Regions from separate parts of the Homo sapiens genome. Here region 1 is linked to region 2. Evidence: fine-mapped expression QTL. Tissue or cell type: whole blood. Region 2 holds a variant in brackets; the other region holds the start of a gene. All regions are shown on one strand. Distances are between the middles of the regions. Region 1 holds the start of XPC (XPC complex subunit, DNA damage recognition and repair factor). Region 2 overlaps TMEM43 (transmembrane protein 43).

Region 1 (2,910 bases), 37 kb after region 2:
GAGGTCAGGAGTTTGAGACCAGCCTGGCCAACATGGCGAAACCCCATCTATACAAAAATACAAAAATTAGCCGGACATGGTGTCAGGCACCTGTAACACCAGCTACTCGGGAGGCTGAGGCAGGAGAATCACTTGAACCTAGGAGGCGGAGGTCACGCCACTGCACTCCAGCCTCAGCGACAGAGTGAGACACTGTCTCGAAAAAAATAAAAAATAAATAAAATATTTATTTAGCATTTAGCCCTACCAATCCACGGGCCCTGCATCCACAGATTCAACCAACCACAGATGAATATATTTCGGGAAAAAAAATACAAATTTAAAAAATACAGCATGACAACTATTTCCATAGTATCCACATTGTATTAGGTATTATTAGTGATCTAGAGATGATTTAAAGTATGTCGGAGGATGTGCATAGGTTACATGGAAACACTAGGCCATTTGATATAAGGTACTTGAGCATCACAGGTTTTAGTATCCGCGGGGTATCTGGGAAGGACCACCTTAGTTTGCTCAAGGAATGTCTAACTTGAGTTTTGAAGAAATAGAAAAAATCAGCCCTGGTAAAAGCCATGGGGGGTTCACTCTAGGCAGAAGGAACATCAAAGGAAAAGACTCAAGGAATAACTTGGCATATTTGAGGAAGAGAAAGGAGGCCAATAAGGAGGGTATCTGGCAAGGAAACAAGTGGTAAGAGAAACAGGAGAGGTAGCAAGAGCCAAAACATGTAGTATCTTGTAGGCCAGGATAAAACAACTGGATTTTAAGCTAAGAGCAATGGAAAACCAAGGGGAGTTTAAAGCAGGAGCAGGGCATGATTTTTTTTTTTTTTAAGATTATTTGGGTTGCTGGATGCAGAGCTGGGAGGCCAGTAAAGAGGAAACTGCAGTCACTCAACTGAAAGGTGATGATGACTTGGACAGGGGCTGTGGTCATGGAAATGAAGAGAAGTGGACAAATTTGAAATACACTCTTGAGGCTGAACTGACTGGACTTGCTGACGGACTGGATGTGTGGACATAAGAAAAAGGTGGGCTTTGCTTTATAACAAGTATTGAGACTGGAAAAACGGAGGAAAGCATAGATTTAAAGAGGAAAACCATGAGTTCTGCATTGCCCATGACAAATGTAAGAAGCCTATCAAATATCCATGAGGGGAAGTCAGGTGGGATCCCACTGTGGAACTCTGGGTGAGACTCAGCTGAAGTTATCATTCGGGAGTCAGCACACTGCATCACTCTACGTCCTGGTCCGTCCGTCTGTCTTCCTGGGACACAAATAACTGCCTTCTCCGAGTTCAACCCTGAACATCTGTATCCTCTGGACAACGGGGAGCGGGAAAAAAGCTACGCAGGAGCTTGGATCGGGCGAAGCTCGCGGGAAACCGCTCTGGGTGCGCAGGACAAAGACGCGGGGACAGCGGGGAGGGCCGGCCGCAGCCTGCCGGGCTGCCCCCACGGCGCGGAACGCGCGCAGCAACCTCCACCAGGCCTCCGCGTCTGGACTCCCGCCCTGCCTCTGGGCCTCCTCCGCCCACCGGCGGCGTCTCCCGCGAAGCCCGCTGGGCCTCGCTCTCACCCTCCTCCTCCTCCTCACGCCGGGCCTTGCTCTTGGCCTTGGATTTCTGGCTGCGCAGTTCGCGTCCCCGCGGCTCCCCGCCGGCCGCGCGTTTCCGAGCCATGTTGCTTGTCTGGGCAAATTCCACTTCGCGAGTGACGCACCCGGCCGCGATGCGCTAGAACGCCGGCCCCGCCCCGAGGCGGTGCGCTTGGCCACGCCCCTTCGTTGGAGGCCTAGTCACGCCCCTAAAGGAAGCTCCACCCCATACCCGTGGCCACTAAAAAACTGCGGGAAGCAGGAAAGAGCACAACAGGTTTCTCTCTATTTCCGGTGTATTGTATCCTCACGTTTCCGGAGATTGACGTTGCTCTTGTGTTCTCGCGAGAGGCGGGAAAGGGCGCAGGGTTTGAAACATGGCGGACGACGTAGACCAGGTAAGTGTATTTTAAGGAGGTCGCTCGAAGGAGCTTCTTGTACTAGGCTGCTTTTTCCAGACTCAGGAAAAATGGCCAGTCGTGCCTCCTCTCTCCAAGTCACCATGGCCTAATCCACCCTGTCCTTTCCGTAACCCCCCCTCCGAATTTTGCCGTAGGCCCTGAGACCTTTTCCTGTTAGAAGCCCACCTGATGACTATTCTCACACTCTTCGCTTCATTTTTTTAAATCTGTAGATTATTATCCTTAGCTACCTCATGGAGCTGTCAGGATTCCAATAGAAAGCCAGGTAATAAAGTTAGGAGTTGTTATCATTAGTGAGCGCAACAATTATTTATTCATTCAGCAGATAGAGTGAACATCAGCTTTGTATGGTTAGGCACTGTTCTAAGGGCCAGGGACACTGACATCGACATATAAGAGATCCTTGCCATTACTTGGAGCTTATATTTGCGAGGAGAACAGATAAAAGTAAATATAAATATGTAAGACTTCCAGGAACTGTGATGTGCTGTGAAGGAAACAAGGAACTGGTATGCAGAATAACAGATGGTCCTAGAAGCTTTTTCACCTGGTCTTTTTCTTCCTCAAATATCTTTGGAGATCATGCCACAACTTAAACTTTCTACTGAAATCTGACCTCCTCAGAGAGGACTTCTGCCCAAATAGCACTCCCGCTACTCTGGTTACCCTGCCTCATTTTTCTTCATAGAGAGTTATTTTTTCATATTAAATGTATGCATCTTTGTTTAATGTGAATCTCTCCCCACTAGAATGTAAATGCCATAAGAGCAGGGATTTTGTTTTGTTCATTCTTTTGTCTTTGGGGTTTAGAACAGTGCTGGAAACACTCAAAAAATATTTGAGTGAATGAGTTAGATGATCAGAGGAAGCCTCTTTGAGAAGCCAATAT
Region 2 (2,910 bases):
GCGTTCTGGGCCCAGGAGGATGGGGTTCCTCGGAGGACTCTCCATCCAAGCCTTTCCCTGGTGTGTGTCCCTTCCAGTCACATGATTGCATCAGTCTTCTCTGGGTGCCAACAGAAACCTCTTCCCCACTCAGCATGCACAAGTCAGAAGAGGTCTGGCTGCACATCTTGGGCTGTCTGAGCTGGGGGGACCACCTCCTTTGTTTACAGTTGGGAAAACAGGCCCGGGAAGGGAAGGACTCTCCCTGAGCCTTTCTTTGGACAGCTGAATTGTGCTCAGAAAGACCAGTGACGTGGTGGGCACATTAGCGAGAGATGAGCATTTAAACGGAATCCTCTTTCTTGCCTGTGTGACCCTGGGGAGACCAGTTCCCTTCTGGAGCCTTGGTTTCCTCGTGTCTGTCTCAGTGGGCCCTTCTTTGGATCTCTGATGTCTGTGATCCCAATTCACTCTACGTCTGGAATGCGCCAGACTCAGGACAGACTTAGAGTGTGGAGGGACCCCCAGGGTGGGTGGGGAGAGTTGGGAGCGCAGCAGGGAAGCACACAGTTCCCCATGCGTTTGATAAATACCAACGTGTGTAAGACTCCACAGCTAGAGACAGACAAGACTTAGAGCAACAGCTCAGAGCCCAGGCTCTGGGCCCATACGGTCTTGAGTTCAAATCCTGGTTCTGGCACTTTCTAACAGGAGGACTGGTGGTGAGTTTCTTAATTCCCTGAGTCTCAGTGACCCTGTGGGTAAAATGGAGTTAAGAAGAGTACCTACCTTACAGGGTGGGCATGAGTGCTTCATGAGATGGTGCACATGGTGCCTAACACAGGCAACGTTCAGAAACATGAACTTTGCTTATTATAAGGGCTGAGTAGCAGTGCTGTATGGGAACAGATCAGGATGAGGCCAGGTAGTGGCTTGCAGGGTGTGCTGCAGGCATGGTGGGGCACCAGGGCTTGCTCTGCAAACCCAGTGATTCCAGACCATTGGTGGCCTCCTGGGAACTGAGCGAAGATTCCCTGAGTGGACATCAGCTATGGAATGCCAACCTGGAGAGGTCACACAAGGCAAGAATAGGGTAATTCCTCATGAATTTAGCTGGATTCTGGGCTTTATCCTATTGGACCAATAGTCTGTGAGATTCTTGAGGAGAGGCCAATGCTTAGGCTAATTTATTTCCTCTAGCACCTGCTGGTTCAGTGCTGGGCACATAAATCATTAGTAACAGCCTGCTGCATGAATGAACCAACACCTCTAGGAATGGCTGAGAGGCCCAAATAGGCACCTTCAGGAGGCTCCACCCACAGCCTCTTGTATG[A/T]GTGTGCAGGACCCAGGTTATTTCTAGCATTACAGGCAAATGTCTTTATACTGGCCTCAGACTACTCTCCACATAAAGTATTAAAGTTTACAAAGCACTGCTACATCCTCTCCCCTGGATCAGGGTAGAGTGGGTGGCTTAGGCAATGTGCCCAACCACGCAGCTCATAGCAGAGGCTCCTGTGCTCCCTTAGCTTTCAGAACGAAGCTCCTTGCCTTCCACCCACTGATCCTCTCCCCTCCTCATGCATGTAGCAACATGGGCCCATCCTCATCTAGGGACAGGAGAGATCTGCTGAGCTGGTGAGGTGTAGAGCAGGTGGCACCTCATCACCTTTCTCCTTTCCACAGTGGACTGGTTTCCTGTTTTCCGAGACCTGGTCAACATTGGCCTGAAAGCCTTTGCCTTCTGTGTGGCCACCTCGCTGACCCTGCTGACCGTGGCGGCTGGCTGGCTCTTCTACCGACCCCTGTGGGCCCTCCTCATTGCCGGCCTGGCCCTTGTGCCCATCCTTGTTGCTCGGACACGGGTGCCAGCCAAAAAGTTGGAGTGAAAAGACCCTGGCACCCGCCCGACACCTGCGTGAGCCCTAGGATCCAGGTCCTCTCTCACCTCTGACCCAGCTCCATGCCAGAGCAGGAGCCCCGGTCAATTTTGGACTCTGCACTCCCTCTCCTCTTCAGGGGCCAGACTTGGCAGCATGTGCACCAGGTTGGTGTTCACCAGCTCATGTCTTCCCCACATCTCTTCTTGCCAGTAAGCAGCTTTGGTGGGCAGCAGCAGCTCATGAATGGCAAGCTGACAGCTTCTCCTGCTGTTTCCTTCCTCTCTTGGACTGAGTGGGTACGGCCAGCCACTCAGCCCATTGGCAGCTGACAACGCAGACACGCTCTACGGAGGCCTGCTGATAAAGGGCTCAGCCTTGCCGTGTGCTGCTTCTCATCACTGCACACAAGTGCCATGCTTTGCCACCACCACCAAGCACATCTGTGATCCTGAAGGGCGGCCGTTAGTCATTACTGCTGAGTCCTGGGTCACCAGCAGACACACTGGGCATGGACCCCTCAAAGCAGGCACACCCAAAACACAAGTCTGTGGCTAGAACCTGATGTGGTGTTTAAAAGAGAAGAAACACTGAAGATGTCCTGAGGAGAAAAGCTGGACATATACTGGGCTTCACACTTATCTTATGGCTTGGCAGAATCTTTGTAGTGTGTGGGATCTCTGAAGGCCCTATTTAAGTTTTTCTTCGTTACTTTGCTGCTTCATGTGTACTTTCCTACCCCAAGAGGAAGTTTTCTGAAATAAGATTTAAAAACAAAACAAAAAAAACACTTAATATTTCAGACTGTTACAGGAAACACCCTTTAGTCTGTCAGTTGAATTCAGAGCACTGAAAGGTGTTAAATTGGGGTATGTGGTTTGATTGATAAAAAGTTACCTCTCAGTATTTTGTGTCACTGAGAAGCTTTACAATGGATGCTTTTGAAACAAGTATCAGCAAAAGGATTTGTTTTCACTCTGGGAGGAGAGGGTGGAGAAAGCACTTGCTTTCATCCTCTGGCATCGGAAACTCCCCTATGCACTTGAAGATGGTT

What was found. PIP is the estimated chance that this variant, and not a neighbour inherited with it, causes the effect.
Region 1: XPC starts here. The variant in region 2 is fine-mapped to the expression of XPC in whole blood (TOPMed, PIP above 0.99).

The regions. Positions count from the first base shown.
Region 1 is chr3:14,176,885-14,179,794 of GRCh38, forward strand. XPC (XPC complex subunit, DNA damage recognition and repair factor) reads right to left here and starts at 1,717. Exons shown (of 16, transcript NM_004628.5): 1 at 1,582-1,717. The coding sequence starts at 1,684. LSM3 (LSM3 homolog, U6 small nuclear RNA and mRNA degradation associated) reads left to right here and starts at 1,933. Exons shown (of 4, transcript NM_014463.3): 1 at 1,933-1,997. The coding sequence starts at 1,977. RefSeq lists a silencer at 1,357-1,476 and enhancers at 1,527-1,876, 1,977-2,026.
Region 2 is chr3:14,139,931-14,142,840 of GRCh38, forward strand. It overlaps TMEM43 (transmembrane protein 43), which reads left to right. Exons shown (of 12, transcript NM_024334.3): 12 at 1,663-2,910. The coding sequence ends at 1,865. Among named protein-coding and RNA genes, the nearest start is that of XPC-AS1, 8.2 kb to the right of the region's middle. The variant A/T (reference allele first, on the strand shown) is at 1,313.